Linked DNA regions of Homo sapiens: all the other regions are linked to region 4. The links come from fine-mapping of genetic effects on gene expression. A gene starts in region 4. Each other region holds a variant in brackets. All regions are shown on one strand. Distances are between the middles of the regions.

Region 1 (5,153 bases), 53 kb after region 4:
AGTATTATTTTTACTATGGTTTTCAATATTGATAAGTTGAACAGGATGCACCAAAGCACTTAAGATTCTTTGGAACACTAGAGTTTGAAAATGTTTGGTCTAAAGAGTCTTAATTTGTAAATAAATGTGAGAGGCATTTGAAATTAAATTTATTTTTGTTTGACACAATGGCTGGGAACACCTGGCATTTAAAGGACAGGGGCCAGGGATGTAAGCAATCTTACAATGCATGAGAGAGTTCTGCACAAAGAAAGAAATGTTCTGTCACTAATTCTAACAGCACTCCTATTGAGGAACACTGGTGGAGTTGTTTTCATGTATTTGTTATCTTTTTAAAATATTTTATTGCACTTTGATGCAACAGAAAACAGTATCTTTCGCTGCCAATTATTTCAGGTACAGTTTCCCCCAGCTAAGTTCTAAAGGCCTTGAGGGCAGAAGTCATCTTGTATATTTCTCTTGTATCCTTATACAGTGAAAGCAGAAAAATACCTTTATTTTGCTATGTCTCTTGTTTTCTCCATATGCAGTGGCATACTCTCATTTTATCCATTTCTGACAGGAATGAAAGAAAAGATATACGCAAAGTGGATTCTAATCATAGGTGAGGACTAATTTTTGTTTTAAGGACTCAGCATGCAGGAAATAATATACAAGTATTAGCTCTTATTAATGATAACAATGGGAGGCATATATAATTTCTTGATTAAAGCAAATGCCAGCCTTAGTTATCAGGTTTTCTTTTTGTCATCACTTTGCCCATTTTCTTAAACTCATATCTTTACAATAGAATTAAATTTTTTTTGGCTAAATCAATCAACAAAAAGTCTATTTTCTAAATCACAACATAATCCCAACTCTCTAATAGTTATTTCTTCGTGTTATTTCACAAATTTTGTCCACATGTAGTTAATTTTTAAAAATAAAATCTTTATTTTTTAGAGCAGATTTCAGATCACAGAAAAATTGAGTGGAAGATATAGAGATTTCCCATATGTCCCCTGCCCTGAGACATGTATAGCCTCCCCCATGATCAACATTCCCCTCTAGAATGCTACATCCATTACAGTTAATGAACCTACATTGACACATCATTATCACCCGAAGTCCATAGTTTACATTAGGGTTCACCCTTGGTGTTGTACATTTTATGGGTTTGGATAAATGTATAATGACCTATATCCAACATTATGGTACAGTCATTTGTTGCATAACAACATCTCAGTCAATCACAGACTGCATATACAAGGATGGTCTCATAAGATTATAATACTGTAACTTTACCGTATCTTTTCAATGTTTAGATATGTTCAGATACACATATACTTACCATTGTGATATAATTGCCTATAATATTCAATGTAGTAACATGCTGCCTAGGTTTGTAGACTAGGAGCAATAGGCTGTATGTGTAGGCTACAGCATCCAGATTGGTAGAAGTATATTCTGTGATGTTCGCACAGCAATGAAATTGCCTAATGGCGCATTGCTCAGAATGTTTCCCTGTTGTTAAGTGATGCATGGCTACGTCATACAGAGTAGTTTCTCTGCTCTTAAGATTCTCTGTGCTTCACTCCCTTCTGACCTCTGGAAACAACTGATATTTTTGTCTCCATTATTTTGCCTTTATAGTTGGTTTTTAAATTAGAAATAATAAATACTGAATATGTAGTTATTATGACTTTTTTATTCACTTAGAATCATTTTGTAAATACTTTTCAATGTTTCTACCTAATGATCAGAGTTATAATTTTAATAGCTGCATATAGTCTAGCATATTTACTGTAGCTTTTTCCTTTATTGTTGGACAATTTGTCTTTGGTCTTTCATGAGTTACATATAATATTTCTATCTAGTCTTTTTGCCATTGATTTTTCTCATGCTCTATTACATATCACCCCCCACCCCCAACTTCACTCACCAATTATTGTCTACTTGCTTGGCTTCTGACTATTGTGGTTTATAGATGCATGCTGACATCAATTTGCCTACCTGCCTTAGCTTCGATCATTGATAGTGCTTGATCTTTCCAGCTTTTCTTCAGTATTCACATTCTTGGCTCACAATAGCTGGTACTTCTGATACTATGCTGCTCAAAAAGTACTTGGTCTAGTGTGAGGCCCATGTGGGTAATCAGTTGGATGATTCATGGTAAGAGAAAAGACATATCCTAGAATAATTGAAATTTTCTTTCTTTCTTTCTTT[C/T]TTTTTTTTTTGACAGAGTTTCATTCTTGTTGCCCAGGCTGGAGTGCAATGGTGTGATCTTGGCTCACCGCAACCTTGACCTCCTAGGTTCAAGTGATTCTCCTGTCTCAGTCTCCTGAGTAGCTAGTATTACAGGCATGCACCACTATGCCCGGCTAATTTTGTATTTTTAGTTGAGATGGGGTTTCTCCATGTTGGTCAGGCTGGTCTCGAACTCCCGACCTCAGGTGATCCACCTGCTTCAGCCTCCCAAAGTGCTGGGATTACAGGTGTGAGCAGCCGTGCCCTGCTGAAACTTATTTGTTTGAGCAATAAAAGCCACATATTTCCTCTTTTGATAAAGTGTAAAATTATAGTACTCTTCCAAGATACTCATGGATTGATAACAAAAAACTAACAACTGGATATTGTTTTAAATATTGAAGAAAAGCAAACAAATCAACATCAGCCATAACATTGCTTCATATGCCAAAACCAGGATGAAATAATGCTTTTATAGAAGATGTGACCTGGGATCAAATAGCATCATTTACCAAATGCAAAGGATTGGTGTAGCTCTTGACTTCAAGGCATATTAAATCTAGCAAAGCTAAGATTCAATATAGATGTAGGTCCAATTTCATGACAAAAAATCAAAGAAACCAACCAAAATCAGAGAACTTAGTAAGTTTGTGGGTATGCAATCTACAGAAGTGAATTATATATATATGATAAAAGAGAAGAAAAGACTCTATTTACAATTCAACAAAAAAGATAAAACGCTTAGGAATAAGTATGAGAGATGGGCATGATTTATATAAAGAACATTTTAAGATGCTACCAAAAAACACAAAATAAAATGAATAAATGGGAAAGCATATAATTTCTTAGATAGGAAAAGTCAACATCACAAAAATTTAATTCAATAAAAATAGCAACAGCATTTTTATTTTGTAATCAGAGACAAGCTAATACTAAAGTTCAAATGAAAAAATAAAAAACAAAAATAGTCAAGAAAAATCTGGAAAAGTGATCATAAAGAGAACTAGTTCTTTCACACATTTAAACACATTTTAAATCTTCAATAATAAAAATAATGTGTGAGATCTGGCAAGCTGGCCAAATAGGAACAGCTCTGGTCTGCAGCTCCCAGTGAGAACAACACAGAAGGTGAGTGATTTCTGCATTTACAACTGGGGTACCTGGCTCATCTCATTGGGACTGGTAATACAGTGGGTGCAGCCCATGGAGGGCAAGCCAAAGCGGGTCAGGCGGTGGGGGGTGGGGGTGGTCACCTCACCCAGGAAGCACAAGAGGTTGGGGAACTCCCTTCCCAGCCAAGGGAAGCAGTGAGGGAATGTGCCTTGAGGGACGGTGCAATCCGGCTCAAATACTATGCTTTTCCCACAGTCTTCGCAACCCGCAGACCAGGAGATTCCCCTGGCTGCCTACACCACCAGGGTCCTGAGTTTCAAGCACAAAACTGGGTGGTTGTTAGGGCAGACACTGAGCTAGCTGCAGGAGGCTGGAAAGCCAAGCAGAGCCAGAATGGACAGAACCATTCACTCCCCTGGAAAGGGGGGCTGAAGCCAGGGAGCCAAGTGGTCTTGCTCAGCAGATCCTACACCCACGGAGCCCAGCAAGCTAAGATCCACTGACGTGAAATTCTCGCTGCCAGCACAGCAGTCTGAAATCCACCTGGGATGCTCCAGCTTGCTGGGGGGTAGGGGCATCCGGCATTACTGGGACTTGAATAGGCGGTTTTCCCCTCACGGTGTTAAAAAAAATGCCAGAGGGAAGTTCAAATGGGACGAATCCCATCGCAGTGCAGCAAAGCTGCTGTAGCCAGACCACATCTCTAGATTCCTCCTTTCTGGGAAGGGCATCCCTGAAAGAAAGGCAGCAGCCCCAGTCAGGGGCTTATAGATAAAAACTCCCATTTCCCTGGGAGAGGGCACCTGGGGGAAGGAGTGGCTGTGGGCACAGCTTCAGCAGACTTAAACGTTCCTACCTGCAGGCTCTGAAGAGAGCAGCCGATCTCCCAGCACAGTGCTTGAGCTCTGCTAAGGTACAGACTGCCTCCTCAACTGGGTCCCTGAACCCCGTGCCTCTTGACTGGGAGATACCTCCCAGCAGGGGTCGACAGACACCTCATACAGGAGAGCTCCGGCTAGCATCTGGCAGGTGTCCCTCTGGGACAAAGCTTCCAGAGGAAGGAACAGGCAGCAATCTTTGCTGTTCTACAGCTTCTGCTGGTGATACCCAGGCAAACAGGGTTTGGAGTGGACCCCCAGCAAACTCCAGCAGACTTGCAGAAGAGGGTCCTGACTGTTAGATGGAAAACTAACAAACAGAAAGCAATAACATCAACATCAACAAAAAGGATGCCCATGAAAAAACCCTATCCAAAGGTCATCAACATCAAAGATCAAAGGTAGATAAATCCACGAAGATGAGGAAAAACCAACGCAAAAAGGCTGAAAATTCCATAAACCAGAATGCTTCTTCTCCTCCAAAGGATCACAACTCCTTGCCAGCAAGGGAACAAAACTGGATGGAGAATGAGTTTGATGAATTGACAGAAGTAGGCTTCAGAAGATGGGTAATTACAAACTCCTCTGAGCTAAAGGAGCGTGTTCTAATCCAATGCAAGGAAGCTAAGAAACTTTATCAAAGGTTACAGGAACTGCTAAGTAGAATAGCCAGTTTAGAGAAGAATGTAAATGACCTGATGGAGCTGAAAAACACAGCATGAGAACTTCATGAAGCATACACAAGTATCAGTAGCTGAATTGATCAAACAGAAGAAAGGATATCAGAGACTGAAGATCAACTTAATGAAATAAAGCATGAAGACAAGATTAGAGAAAAAAGAAAGAAACGGAACGAACAAAGCCTCCAGAAATATGGGACAATGTGAAAAGACCAAACCTACATTTGATTGGTGTACCTGAAAGTGATGGAGAGAA
Region 2 (5,153 bases), 140 kb before region 4:
TACCAGAAATCAACACCTTCAGGAGAATGGCATCACAAGATTGCATGGACTCATATTAACTATTACAAGGGGCACTGGAAAAAAAGGTCATTTGCTCATTTACAAAATCCTAATTGAACTAAAGCTCTGTAATTATAGCCATGGTATCAGACCAGCTTTTTCGCACATCCTATCACATCGCTGCCTGCTGATGTTTTACACTGCCTATAAAGTCTCATAATTTTAAAAGGGAATGAAACAGAATGCCACAGGTGACCGACCTCTGCTCCTGCTACTTGGGAGTCACGTTGTCTTGGCTTCGTCCTGGCTCAAGGTTACTAGTCTCTTGCTGCTTTGGGCCAAATCTCTTATCTCTTTACATTTCCTCCTCTCAGGCTGAGTCAAAAGTAAGTCACATGTATAACAAAACTGTCTTAAAATACCACTGTTTTTCAGCCAAGAGAATTACGGATGCAATTTAAAGTCTAAATGTATTAATTGGAAAAATTAAATTAGAGCAACTCAAGGTTTTCCTGTAATTACCAAATGAAACTGATTGAAAAACTGTTCCTTCTAATTCTGCTTTTCCAACAAAAGTTCATCACACTAGCAGGATAAACATTCAAAATACATAATAGAACATATCCTAATTAAGCACCAGAGTTGTGTCAGAGCCAAGTATATACACACACACACGTATACGTGTGTGTGTGTGTGTGTGTGTGTGTAGTTTATTACTGGTTAAGTAAATGCTCTAATTAGCAAAAATCATGAGAAATATATACAGTGATATAATGCGGTTAAATTTTAGTTCTCTGTGTTAACTACTTACTGTTAATTTAGTACTCAATTAGAATTAACTCTGGGATTTTGAGGGCAGATAAATCAGTAATTAGCCTTTATCCCAGAAAGAATAGTGGTAGCTTCAAAAGCTTCAACAGACCTAATGATGTAATTTATTCAGGACAGAAAAAAAAATATGTAGCCAACATTCTTGCAAGAATTACTTTCTTATGGAATTTAAGATTTCCTCAAATATTTTCTTTTCTATATAGCGTTTTGTTCTTGTGTAGTTATCTGCCTAGGATACAGACAGGATATTGAGACTATTTCAGAAAGTAGACACACTAAAAACATTTGACAAATTAAAAAAATTTTGCATAAAACAGGTTACCCTTTCCTGCTGACTATACTTAAGAAATACCAAAGTAGCATACAAAATGCTTCTAAACTTTCAAAATATCTGAATAAAAACAAAGATCCTACTTTTAACTGAGATAGATTTATAATTCTTACTTACAAGATAAAAAAATTTCCTAAAATTTATTTTTAAATTTCACATAACCTGCTATAATTCGCTGTAAAAAATGGATGTCAAAATAGAATTTTAAATATACAAATTGTTTTTGATAACTACCTTTCATACATTTTATTTAAACTGTAGCATTAGCTCAAGATGAAACTTTTTAAAAGAAACCATAGGCTTTTGTCCAACTCAAAGATTCAAGCCCAGATTCTGAACAAAGTAAATGTGATGAAATTTATGAAAAACTATACTGTACAGTCAAAACAGTGATGGTGCCTCAGTAAATAACTTCAGTAAAATATCCAGTGCTCCAAATAGCTGAGCCATCTTTCTAAGGTTCACTCTGCTTCTCTCCCCCAGCCCTCATGGCCTGTGCTACCATCTATTCTTTTAGCGTTTATGCTGGAGGGCCTTATAGTTCCTTTAAAAGTACACTGAAAATACTTTATATCACAGCTTATTCTAACCACTGGTTCTCAAATTAAAAGGTATATTTCAGTGCATATTTCATAGCCACATTGCAGAACTAATATTTGAAAACTCTTGGGGGAAATTTTGGTAACAAAATTGCAAAATGACATGATTATTTATGAGCTTTCTATAAAAAGTTTTTTTTTTTTTTTTTTTTTTACTTTAGAGATCATACCTACTTTCCTGCCTTTTTGATAAGTAAGGCATGAAATGAAACAAAAGTTTTGAGCTGTAAGGTGCCTATAAAGGATGTCACTACAGCAT[T/G]CACAATGCTAGGTGTGTAAGATGACATGGCTGTTACCATGTACTAAAGAACCCCATCATGTGAGAGATCGCTCAAAGTCATTAACACAAAGCAGTGAAAATCATCCAGCAAAGCAGTGCTTATGAGAGACTAGAATTCAGAGAAATGCAAGGTACGAACTTCTCTCTAATCCAAGGGTATTCTGCTGTGATCTTCTAATCAGTGATGATTGTGCTTATGCACACGACATCTTCATGGGAGAGACCAGGCTGATTGCAAAATAATGACAACCAACCAGTTTACCTCAACATAGCTCACTCTGCAATGTCAGACATGCAGTGTAGAGCAGTCACAAAGTCAAGCCATGAATACAGGGATGGAAAAACATTCCAGTGAGCTGGTCTCTACAATTTTTAAGACACTTCATCCTCCCAATTATATTCTTTGTCATAAAGAGGAAAAACAGCAAGATTATTAAATCCAAAAAGTCACAGATGTCACAAGGGGATGAAATAATTTCCTCATTTTTTTTCTTTATCAGTGTAGGAAAAGCTGTCTTTCCATAGCCCACACTCATAATAGCACTTCAACTAGGCTCCTTTGAAAATGAAAAGTGAACAAGTTTCCTAATGCTGGCCTTATAAGATCTAAAGAGATGATTAAATTCAAACCAGGCTGAGCTCTTACTCTGAGCTATTTCAGCCACTGATGTTTGTAAAATATAGGAAGAAGATTCCAATAGGCAATTTGCATTGGCAAGCACTGGACTACAGAATTCATCACTGTTTTCTGAAAAAATATAATTAAACCTTAATGGAATTATGACACTTTTATGAGGTTTATAATTCACAGCCACCTCTCATCATATTTTGTTCTTCTTTCCATTTTTACCATTTCAAATATTGCAATATTGCCCACCATAAACCACTGAAAATGATTATTTATGTATATTCCATTTATTTCTCTAGGGGGTCTAGGTAATTTGAATCAGGAGCTCCAAGTACCATTTAAAAAGGTGAGTCTTTAAAAACCATCAGTGTTTTAAACACTTGATTAGAAAAAAGATAACAGCTCCTTGTAGTGATCTAGCTTATGTGCTTTATGGTATCTTTTCAAAAGGAGAGTATAAATCATTGTACATAAAATCAAAATAGCTAATATACATTTTTTTCTGGCACTTTTGAGAAATTAGGCATTGAACATAAAACATCTTATAAACTTACATAACAAAAATAAATGTTTACATTTTAATCTTAGATTACCTTAGGGTAGCAGTTAACTTATGAGATGCCACACTGTTGGTGTGGGCAGCGGAGACCATGGGAAATACACATTCATGTCCACAGCCCTTCAGCGATGGATGCATGGCTGCCGTCCAAATATGTGGTCTGTGTCCCAACATAAAGATTAAGGCTCTCTGTTTTGAAGGAATGAGTTCTGGGCTTAAACAAGTCTAGAAGTACCACAATACTCATGGAAAATACTGAAAAGATTCGGACGAGTTTTCAAACACTGGGGGAAACACGTTTTTGACTAGAAAAATAAAATAAAGCATCTAAAACTGACTTCAAGTACTTTGGGGAGAGGCTGCTGATATCGAATGCCAAAATAAGAAGGAACAAAGACAGAAGAGACTCCAGGGACGTCCCTCCCCATCCCTTCACCCGCAGGGTCCAGATCCCCAGGTGCTGATGCGCAACTCTTTGGGGAGGACTGGCGAGCTGGGCAGAAAGCAGCAGCCATGGTTTGTCACCATCCTAAAACACCTATATTGAGGGCAAAGGCCAAGCTTTGTGTGAAAATTTCCTTGGGATGAACCACAGGAATCTGGACATTTCAAGGGGGAAAAAGCCTTAAAGTCAGTAGCAGACAGAGAAAAGGAAAGAGAGGAAGAAAAACCTGCTTTTCTGAATGGCAGTACTTTAGGCCGGGGGCATTGTGGTCCTTGGTGAGTGCAGCTTTTCCATACAGCTTGGCTTTCCTCACTAATGAGATGAGACCACTGACAGCTGGGATCTTTTGTGGGTGGTGAGGGTGCAGCAGGGAGATGTGCTTGGGTGTACCTGTCCATCTGGCAGGCAGGGGCACACTCAGGTGCAGCCTAGTCCGTACCTCTCTGTCTCAGAAACTGAACAACTGGGAGAACAGTCGACAGGGCCTCTCCAACCATCTTCAGGTGACTAAAGCAGCATATGAAGTATAGGTTTGTGTCACTTCTTCTCTTCCACAGAAGAAACGTCTCCAGACACTGATCACAGGCTACCCAGGGTTGTCTTCTGGGTTGCTAGAGCCTGGTAATATCTCTGCCTTGCTGCAAGTCACTTATGCTCTCGTAGTCGTTCTCCTTTGGGACGAGACCGTGGTGGCCATTGGTCCCCAGGGTGGCCTTTTCTTCCTCTCTGTTGAGAGTCTGTATCGCTTCATAATCAGGCTCTGGCTCCTCGCTGGGCCTCCCTGCTGGTGGAAGTGTGCTGTTTGGAGTTTTTTCGAAGTCTTTAACAGTAGCATAGAGATCATTACAGGAGGAGGGTGACCTCTGTGGGTCCCCTTGAATGGAGGTGTAGGTGGACTCCGGAACTGTAAGCGACTGCCCCGATTTATTCACTAACTGTCCAGGTTTATTTACTGATGAGTACATAGCTGAGATCTAGGAGACAAAGGGAGAGTTGAATAAACTTCCAGCTGTGACTTCCCCCTCCCTCTTTTTAGTGACAAGCTACATACTGAGCACTCCTGGGTTTCTGTGTGTGTACTCCTTAAAGATTTGTTCTTTCTTATCTGTACTAATTATGGAGCACATTACTAGAGAATAATTACACACACTATCTTCAACTATGTTAACTAGATCAGTCATATTCCCTTAATTCCGTGAAAACCCAGTTCTCTTGGGTCTGCCGAGGAATTTGAGGAGAGGTGGAGTGGGAAGCTCCTGAAGGCCCCGGGGACCTGACCACAGCATGTGTTTTATTTCATTTCTTTATCAGAATGATATTTTGCCTGAAAAGGGGCTCCACTGCTTTACAAAAAAGGACAGAAAACACATAGTAGACCGGTGATTCTCAAAGTGTGGGCTGTAAACCAGCAGCAACAGGATCTGGGAATTTGTCAGAAAGGCAAGTTCTCAGGCCTCATCCCAGAACCACCAAATCAGAA
Region 3 (5,153 bases), 42 kb after region 4:
CTGGTCCTCCTTAATACCCATCTTTAAAATATTTTCTTTAAGAAATATTTAAGAATATTTTCTTTTTCTAGAACTGCAGCACCAGTATCAATACAACGGTGGGTTCTTTGATCTTTTTGTTAAAAATTTTTTTTTTAATGAAACCGGTAAGAATGATGTAGATATTATCAAGTACACATTACTAGAGCAATATTGAATTTCTGTATAAAGAAATTTAAGTATGTAATAATAGACCACTCATTTTATAAAATACTTAATTCTATGAAATTATAGTCAAGATGATTTGATTAATCCACTAAGTTTCCTTCAAATTGAATTTGGCTAGCTCTTACTTAGGAAAACTGACTTCTATTGAGACCAAATTGCTGCAAACTGAATCATTGTGTGTTCGAAGTATGCGAATCTCCCAGGTGAGACTCAGGATGGCAACACAGGCATCTAGAAGCAATTTAAGAAGTGATTAAAGCCCAAGAGCATAGTGAAGGAAAAGAAAACAAATAACAAAGCAATGGCTGCATAGCACGTGTTATTAAGTCCATCAAAGGTAATTATGAAAAATATCTTAGACAAGGGATTGATGATCTCTTCTTAGAATGAATACTTTTAGTAAAACATCTTTAAAATATCTCTGTTTTAAAATTTTTGTATATAGATCTATCAGAGATCTCTCTTTTTAAACTAAAGGGAGACACAATGAAAAGTTTGGAGATCAGTTGTTCAAAAAGTTTAAGATTAGCCGGGCGCGGTGGCTTACGCCTGTAATCCCAGCACTTTGGGAGGCCAAGGCAGGTGGATCACGAGGTCAGGAGATCGAGACCATCCTGGCTAACACGGTGAAACCCCATCTCTACTAAAAATACAAAAATATTAGCCGGGCATGGTGGCAGGCACCTGTAGTCCCAGCTACTCGGGAGGCTGAGGCAGGAGAATGACGTGAACCCCGGTGGCGGAGCTTGCAGTGAGTGGAGATCATGCCACTGCACTCCAGCCTGGGCGACAGAGTGAGACTCCGTCTCAAAAAAAAAAAAAAAAGAAAAAAAAGTTTAAGATTAGAGTTATTTAACCTGATGATGTCTAAAAGCACACCTTTGCCTCTCCCAGTGAAGCAAACGTTGAAGGAAAAAAAAAAATCCTAAAGAATGAAAAAGAAACTTGAAGCAAAGTATATGATCCACAATTTGGTGTACAATGTCATTCACAACAGTCTTACTGATATGACTTCTGGAGCTGATTTTTTTCATGTGTGAGCGTTTACCATTTTATGTTTAAGTTTATATCAATTTTTCAAATTACCTTTAAACTGTTAGGCCTGTAAAAAAAAAAAAAGAATTAATTCTGAAGGGAAATAAAATTATCATGCAGGTCATTTAGCTTAAGATAAAAGTCATTTCATTGTATGCCCCAAGTCTTACTCAAAGAAAGTCTGTGAGTTCTTTTCAAGGCTCAGGAATAGAATCCCAACTAAGCAGGGGGAACTCTTACTGTAATTTTAACTACCTGTATTCAATAGTCATGGTGATTTTGATTTGCTTTTCTTTTACTAATTTTTTTTCCTGTTCCATGGTTTCCATGGTGAATTCCTATAATACAGGTAGACTAATCCTATCTTCCTTTGAGTCAAACAGTTCCAGAGGTGATGTATCACAGTGGGCCCTATGAAATCCAATCAAACCAGGGAGAGGCTAGTTTCTAGTTTCAGAAAAGAAATTTACTCTCAGACAATATATAAGCTTCCAATAATTAGAAAGGAAAATCAGTTTAAAAGATTTAACGAGTTTTTATCTTCATAATTAGTCACATCATTTTGTTAAAAGGGAAAAAAACAGGCTTCAATGAGCCTTCTGTACCATAATAACAGATTTGCATGGTGTGTTGCAGTTTACAAAGCTTTCTTACATCTAATTGCATTCTAATTTATATGGTGTCTGTTTACTTTTCTATCAGATTTTAGAACTCTGTTGTGATCACTCATAATCTGAAACTTGAAGCTATAAAGATGGCTAAGCAATAGCAGATAAATTGTCTTGAATAAAATATAACAGAGAATGATAATGACAGCCCCGGAAGATGCTTGTTAATATATGATTCCACCTCTAGCATGATCTCAGAGCCGGGGCTTCAGAGATAACATTGATGTGAGACTCTACTGGACTTAATTTGATTTTTAAAATTATTATTCAAAATCACTTCCTAGGAGACAGTATTATTATTTAAGTTTAGTTTTTAAAACCATTTCATCTCTACCACTATTGCTTTTAAACTTTTCTAGATTGCATTCTTACAGAAAAGCCTCTTTGCAGTCAACATCCACAGAAAAGAAATAGAAGCAATTGATCTGCAAGGACCTGCCTTTGAAATATTGACACATTGAGGTAAAATCAAATGCTTCACATTGTGAAAATAGCTAACGCTCTTGTTTGTGAAATTCAAATAAGCATTTCCTCATCATTTGCATAGATCCAGTTTCGCTTCCTAATTTCCATACTGCCACCTGGATGCATTCAGGCTGTTCTGTGACACAGTTGAACTAGTTTAGAAGGTTCCTCCTTTGTCTCTGGGCTCCTTTTCTTTTATTCCCCTAGGACTCTTTGCTGCAAATGATTTTATCTGAAGCTGTGTCTGAACAAAAATAGACAAATGGAGAACTGAGGCAATTATACTATTAATTCAAGCAGAGAAAAAAGCACTTCGCCTGAGTTATCTGGCATTTCCTGGCAAAAATCTTTTTCTATGTCAATGATCTAGAAGATTGCCTAACTTCTTTTCTTCAGGGGTGTAGATGTGGCCTATGTCACATGGCTCTCATTGCCTCATTTCCTGCTGCTTCAGACTGTGTCTATTCTAGGAAGGCTGACACATGATGAGAAGAGTCAGTGGTCCTGAGGTACAGTACTTAAGATAACCCTGTGAAGGCTGAGATTGATATTTGAAATTCACAACTGATCTTGGAGCCTGGTACAGCAGTCATGGTAAGCTGGACATACATACACACACACACACACACACACACACACACACACACACATATATATATATAT[T/A]TTTTTTTTGAGACAGAGTTGCCCTCTGTTGCCCAGGCTGGAGTGCAGTGGCGCAATCTCAGCTCACTGCAACCTCTGCTTCCTGAGTTCAAGCAATTCCCTTGCTTCAGCCTCACAAGTAGCTGGGATTCCAGGCATGAGCCACCGCACCCGGCTAGTTTTTGTATTTTTAGTAGAGACAGGGTTTCACCATGTTGGCCAGGCTGGTCTCAAACTCCTGACCCCAGGTGATCCACCTGCCTTGGCCTCCCAAAGTGTTGGGATTAACAGGTGTTAGCCACTGCACCAGGCCTGGACCAATACTTTTATTCATTCTTTTACTCACTGAGTGCGTGCTCTGTGCTAGGTCTTGGAGATACAAAGATGACAATGTCTTGGCACTTGTACTAGCAGTTTAATACACATTAAGAAGTAGTTACAACACCATACAATAAGTTTGAACAATGATTCCATTGAGGGGAAAAGCGTATACCCTCTAAAAGATTTAAAGTAATAGAAGCAGAGCCACAAAGGCAATTCTCCACGAATGCACTTCTTCTGTGTTATCTTGTTTGCTTTCGCCTACAATCCCTTAAAAATGACATAAGCCAGTTTCACTGGAGATTCATTTACTATCTCTTAAGGATACTCGGTCTCTGAGAGTTGTGGGGTGGACACTTTCAACAGACCAGGGTTTGGCAGAGGTTTGTCATGCCTTTTTGCCAAGGGCTCACCCTGGCAGATGGCAACAGCTGTTTGTGATTGTCAAGAAAGTGCAGGAGGAGCCCTGCAAAAATGTCCTTTTTATTACACCATTGACTTCTTTCCTGAGAGTGGTTTTTCACTGTATCAGTGCATAATTGATTTTGCTAACGCATTTACTCTAATCATACAAAAACCTAATTACTCTATGTAATGAATCATTAACAATTTCCTTAAATTCATTTCAGTGTTTGCATGCTGGTATTCAATTTATGCTAATAAACCCAAAATATTCATGTCTTTAAGTCAGAGATTGCAGACTATGCTAAAAAATTTGTTTTACTAAATGTACATTTTAAATCTGTATTTTATAAAATACTGAGGTGTAAAGTCTGCAAGATTATTCTGAAATACACAGCATTCAAATTTTCTATTTACTTTTTAAGCAGAGTTCTTTTTATCTCCTTCACACTCCGAATTCACTTAGCTACAACAAAATGACACGTGGTCATGTTTAACTTAAGAGCATTAATTGGTGTTTGGTAATGAAAGATCAAAAGTGACTGATGTCAAACTTTTTCACTTTGATTTATTCACATTGAGATTCAGCCTTTGATTCATTTGCTGAAATAGATATTAGGAATAAGTACCTTATTTTTATTACTAATGAGTACCTTATTTTATTATTTTAATCAAAGAAGAGGAAATTAAACCTTGAATTCTAGCCATAAAAATATATCACTATAAAATCAGATTTTTTTACAGTACTGCCATTATTATTATTACCTTATTATTAAACACATACTATGCACTTAAGTGTCCATTTACTCTGATAAGTGCTTAATGTTCACCAATTCATTTAATCATCTTCTAAACCTATGAGGTCAGTACTATTATTATACTCATTTTATAGACAAGAAACAGATTTAGAGGGCTGGGCACCGTGGCTCACACCTGTAATCCCAGCACTTTGAGAGGCCAAGGTGGGCGGATCACCTGAGGTCAGGAGTTCGAGACCAGCTGGCCAACATGGTGAAACCCTGTCTCTACTAAAAATACAAAAATTAGCCAGGTGTGGTGGTTCACGCCTGTCATCCCAGCTACTTGGGAGGCTGAGGTAGGAGAATAGCTTGAACCCAGGAGGCAGAGGTTGCAGTGAGCCGAGATGGCACCACTGCACTCCAGCCTGGGCAACAGAACAAGAGTCCATCTCAAAAAAAAAAAAAAAAAGAAAAAAAAGAAAAAAGAAAAAAAAAAGAACAGATTTAGAGAAGTGAAGCAACTTGCCCAAGGTTACACAGTGTTGCACAGTGGTTCTCAACTGGGTGTGATTTTTGCCTCCCTAGGGACACTTGACCATGTCTAGAGATATTTTTTCTTGTCACAACTGGACAGGGGGCAGCTGGCATGTAGTCAGTAAAGTCCAGGGGTGCT
Region 4 (5,153 bases):
GTATGGAAGCATGGGCAAGTTATTTAACAATAATTATGATCATTTCTGTTGTGGGTGCTGTTAAGCACTTTGCATACTTTAATCCTTAAGCTTAGATTTCTTCATGTATAAATTGAGGATAATAATGCAACTACTTCATTTGCAAGTTGAGGCAGCAGGGTCAAAAAGAACACAGTTTCAACACAGACAGACGTGGGTTAAATGCCAGCTCCAATTTCTACTATTTGATCTCACTGAGCTCCCATTTTCTCATCTCTAAAGTAGAGATGAAGCCACTTACCTCAAAGGACTGTGGTGGGGAATTGAGCAAGACAGTGTTAAATACCAGTTGGTGTCTGTATCGCTAGACAGTGCACAATAAATGTTTATACCTTCTCTCCTATTATACACATGAACTGCTTCTGTTAATATTCATCAGCAGCAATTCAATGTCCATAGCAGCAATTCAATGTCCATAGAGTCCAAAGATGCATTTCCTTTCATAACAATGAAAATTTTTCCCAGAACAAGCTTAATATGCCAGATACTGGCCCAACAGCTCTATGTCTATGAACTCATTTAATTCTCACTACTGTTCAGTGGGGTAGGTACTACTACTGTCATCCCCATTGTACAGATGAAGACACTGAGGCACAGACTTTGGGTTACTTGCCTAGATTCAAACAGATGGTACCAGAGCTGGCAGCCTGGCTCCATAGCCTGTCCTCCTAACCAGGCTGCAATAGGGCTTAATGGGTCAATCTGTTTGAGATTCCATGCTTGGATGTAATCTCTTCTAGAGATAAGCACTGGATGCTCTCACAAACCGCAATGTGTTGATGTGACTAACTTTTCAACTTCTGAAATAACATTTTGTGTATTTTCTTAGTATTCCTAAAAAAAAACCCTTTACACTTTAAATAAGGTGCCTATAACTAGTTCATCTTGTTCTGCATGCTGAAATACCATAAATAAATGCACTTCTCTCTTCAAAGATTATGTAAATAAATCTTACATTAAAACATACCCCTGAGCTTTGGTTTAAACAATAATTTCAAGTCCAAATTAAACATTTATGTATGTGTATATATATTTAGCAGGAAAGTCTTAATATGACCTATTTTGTTAAACTAATGACATCTATACCCAATACTCCAAATATTCCTCTTATTTATAATATTCGCTGTGTAACAGTCACACAGCAGTACTGCATGGTACTTCAAAGTACTATTCCTTTTACAAGTTTAACCAACTCAGGTATTAAACATCAATGATGATAATCCATAGCTCTGCTTAAAAGGAATCTCTCGGGAACAGCTGAGAAAGAAAGGTTAAAGATTTCTATCCTTCAAAGTAGGGCACTGCAGCTACCTATAAATCATGCTCTTTGTTTATTAAGATAATTAGGCCCATCAGTACACTTAACTTTTAGACTCAACAATTGTCTGGCATGAACAATTTCCACTTTTTCTAAAACAAAGGGGATGTGTTCAAAAAGCGGTCCTCTGCATGCTCTCTGCACAATGCATGCTATTTTAAAACATGATTTATGGGTCTAATTCCTGGAGCTGCCTTGAAAAATATAGTGGGTTGTTCCTCCCATGCTCCCTATTAGGAGAAGACACTCCAATTTGAAGAGTGCACTCTGTTTCAGACTTCAGGCCGCTATATCATGTCAGCATTTTCAGTAAATACTGTTCAATTGGACTTTAAACAAATGGAATGGAGGGCCACAGCTGCAGCCACTGCAGAGATAAAGTTATCCAGCCGGGAGGCTTACATAAGAGGTGCAGGACAATCAGGGTGAAATCCAAGTGTCATTATCTGAATCCTATTTCTTGAGACTTGCCTACATTCTTAAAGTGTATGAATTCACACGCCCAGAGCTCGTTTTATTTGCCTTAGGGCATAAAACACCGGGTCGACATATAAGTTGTTTTTTCCCTAAAGGACTAGGCTCCAATTATGAAAAGGTTGGCAACTTCTGCCTAGGGGAAGAGTAAAGCGGGATGCGCGGGAAGCCTGCAGGCCTGAAAGAAATGGCTCGCCCAAAGATCCATCGCAGTGCTGGCCACACTCCCCAGAGGAATTAGGATGGAGGTGACAAGACCCTGCCCAGCCCCTTCACCCCAACGTAAACACAGAGTCAAGGAGCTTGGAATGAATAATTAGCACGCAGCAGTCGAAATGCCCTAGGAGTACCTGTCCTCTCCCAGCATATTTCCAACTGGCACATTCGTGAGATGCTGAGGTCAGCCAGCCCTGGACTCCAGACCTTCCAGCTGCCTTGTCCCCTTCTTGGCACCCCGCACTCCCTCCTCGAGCTGGAACTCTGTTAACAAGAGGTGCCACCCTCGGCTTCCCACAAGAAGATAAAAACGAACCTCTCCTTCCCACGGCTCCCTCCAACTTCAGAAACTACAGTCAACTTACTGGGACTCAGGAGGCAGGGAGTCTTCCTGGCGGACGGCGCTCGGAGGCAGCCTCTGCAAACTCCGGCGCGCAGCGCCGCCGCCCCGGCACAGCCCGGCAGCAGCGGCAAGTGCAGGACCAGGCGCCGCCGCTCTGCACCAGTCGCCTTGGCTCAGCTGTGCCGGGCGCCGGGCATTCGCCAGGGCACACGACTCAGCGAGGCGGCGGCTGGGACTGAGGCTACTGCACCCGGCCGCGCGGACCCGAGCGCTGCAGCTGCCTCCAGCCCCGGAGCGCGGCGCTCCGAGCCCCTGGTGGGTGTCTCTGGCTCCAAGGGAATCACGGCTCAATTAGGGACCTGCCAGGAGAAAAACCGATGCGCTGCCGCAGGCAGAGCCGCCAGCCCGCCCCCAGTCGGCTGGTCACATCGCGGGCGCGCAGACGGACAAGCGAGCGGGAGGGTACCGCAGCCAGCACTCGCCGCCGCGCCGCGGAGAATGACAGGCGCCGAGGCGGAGCAGCCGCGCGGGGAGCGGGGCGCGAGTGCGCATGATCCTGGCCGCAGCGGCACGTCACGGGGGAGGAGGGGCGGGCCGCGGGGCGGGAGGGGGCGAGCCGGGCGGGGCCGGGCTGGGGGTGCACACGGGTGAGGACCGGCGCGGGGCCTGGCTTGCTCGCGGGAGGATGCAGGAAGTCTTCCCTGCCCTGATTTTATGAACCCAAAGCTCTGTGGTTGAACTTGTCCCAGGAGCCCATTGTCCTTTAAACAGCACCGTTTAAGCGGTCCTTAAGGTCCCTGGGGAGCCCACAAAAGCCAATTTAATTCAGGTTACAGCTTAACCGTAAAGGGTTGCCATTTGGGGGACAGTGATCTTCTATTGTGGCTGTGCATTAAAATAACTTGGGGAGCTTGTAAGAACCCTTTGCCCCGGACGCATCCCAGAACAAGTACAGGACAATGTCTGGGTGGGGCCCACCCAGGTATCAGTAGGTATCTAAAGATACCAAGGTACAGCAGTGCTTCTCAAACCCTCAGTGTGTGACAGAATCTCCTGCGGATTGTGATGAGATGCAAGATTCAGATTCAGTAGGCCTGGGATAATGAGGGAGACATCCTTTCTAACAAGCTCTCGGAGGATGCCAATACTGGAGGTCCAGACCCCCATCCTTGCTACTTAACGTGTGATCTAGAGCCTGGAGCAGAGCTTCTGAAACAGTTGGCCTGTCTGACAGTCACCCGAGGGGCTTATAAAAAACGCAGAACAAATGCCCAGGCCGTACCCCCAGTGATAGTGGTTCTGGCTCAGCCCCTGGCAAAGGTGGGCTTCTAGAATTCCATTTGGCATCAACACTCTAAATAAATCTGATAGGGGTTTTGTTTGGGCCAAACTTCAAGTTTACACTAGCAACCTGGAATTGGGAATAAACTTTTGCACTTACAAGGAGACAAACCAAGTCTAGAACTCAGGACATCTGACTTTGAGTCAGGGATTCTAAACCAACGGGTGCTTTATCTGACTAGTCCCAATTTTCTAAAATTATGATGCATTACTTAGCAAGAAAAAACATATAAATGGCATTAAATATACACACACACACTCTATTGAACACTCGTTACACATATCATTAATGGGAGCTTAAAGGTGGCTGGGGAAGAAGGCTCATCAGGAGAGGGTAAGGAAGACAGTGATGGAGTAAGGGATGTTGTTAGTGTGTCGCAGAGGGAAGGGTATGTGGGAGGAAACAGTTTAGACTCAGCCTACAGCTTGGAAAAGCCCATTGGGGAAGCGGACCCAGGAACCAGACTTGGCCTCTTGCTTCAGAGCATGGTATGAAACTCAGGTGTTTAAGAACTTATGGAGTATAACATTTCACATACGTTACCTCACTGAAATTTCACAGTGGTCTCTTAAGTTGAATAATAATATAAAAAAGTATCCCCATTTTATATATTAAAGAAGACATCCTGGACATGAGTTGACTAATGGTGGAACTTGAATAAAAGTAGGGATCTCCGTGTTGGACTTGGCTTCTACAACTCTGGAGAAGAGGACAATTTAGACCTTATAAAGCAAATGGTTTCTGTGTTTACTAGTCACATCTTTTACAGGCTGTGCCTAAATTTGGAGTTAGGAAGGCTTTCATTCTTGTGGGGAGGAAATACATTTTGTGTCTTCCAGTTTTGCTACACTTGTTAGGATACACTTAGAACAAAATGTTCTAAGAGCAACCCGGTCCTAGGACATTGCAGTTCCACAGTGCAGGCTTCATTGAGGAGTTTGAAGGGCAATATTCACGTTATCTGGTGACAAGTGTAATTACCATCCTCATTTTACCCAGGCTCAGAAGCTAAGTGATTTAGACAAATTCACGAATGCAGGCAGGAGCCAATCTCTAGCCTCTGTCCTTTTCCTCTGCTCTCTTTTCACCAAGTAACATGCTGAGGATTGTTTTTCATTTCCAAATTTTTCATATCAGGATTTGCCATCAGTAAATTGGAACTCAAATGTATTTCAAAGCCACTCCTAGATAGAGAACCAAAAGTGTCAGGATCAATTCTTGTGCTTGTGGTAGATGCTATGGGCTATACTCTCGGTCTGAGTAATGTTTTGGAAGCAAGTATGTGATAGTTATATACAGTCTTCTAATCCAGAGGTTTGACTGGGAATGCTACACTGCCAACTGTGGTCTACCTGCCTTTATCTTTACTTCTTATCTAACTCTTCCATTACAGCCATTCTTCGGTGTGATTATGAAATTAA

What was found. PIP is the estimated chance that this variant, and not a neighbour inherited with it, causes the effect. A credible set is the group of variants that fine-mapping cannot tell apart.
Region 1: its variant is the best candidate, but not a certain one, in a credible set for the expression of PAG1 in whole blood (INTERVAL, PIP 0.79).
Region 2: its variant is the best candidate, but not a certain one, in a credible set for the expression of PAG1 in whole blood (INTERVAL, PIP 0.62).
Region 3: its variant is the best candidate, but not a certain one, in a credible set for the expression of PAG1 in neutrophils (CEDAR, PIP 0.69).

The regions. Positions count from the first base shown.
Region 1 is chr8:81,162,063-81,167,215 of GRCh38, forward strand. It overlaps a transcript of LOC105375924 not described here. Among named protein-coding and RNA genes, the nearest start is that of PAG1, 53 kb to the left of the region's middle. The variant C/T (reference allele first, on the strand shown) is at 2,206.
Region 2 is chr8:80,972,260-80,977,412 of GRCh38, forward strand. It overlaps PAG1 (phosphoprotein membrane anchor with glycosphingolipid microdomains 1), which reads right to left. Exons shown (of 9, transcript NM_018440.4): 9 at 1-4,647. The coding sequence ends at 4,285. Among named protein-coding and RNA genes, the nearest start is that of ZNF704, 100 kb to the left of the region's middle. The variant T/G (reference allele first, on the strand shown) is at 2,021.
Region 3 is chr8:81,151,438-81,156,590 of GRCh38, forward strand. All of the region lies in intron 1 of LOC105375924 (a long non-coding RNA gene), which reads left to right. Among named protein-coding and RNA genes, the nearest start is that of PAG1, 42 kb to the left of the region's middle. RefSeq lists an enhancer at 2,723-2,772. The variant T/A (reference allele first, on the strand shown) is at 3,039.
Region 4 is chr8:81,109,179-81,114,331 of GRCh38, forward strand. PAG1 (phosphoprotein membrane anchor with glycosphingolipid microdomains 1) reads right to left here and starts at 2,890. Exons shown (of 9, transcript NM_018440.4): 1 at 2,413-2,890. RefSeq lists an enhancer at 2,336-2,405 and a silencer at 2,896-3,025.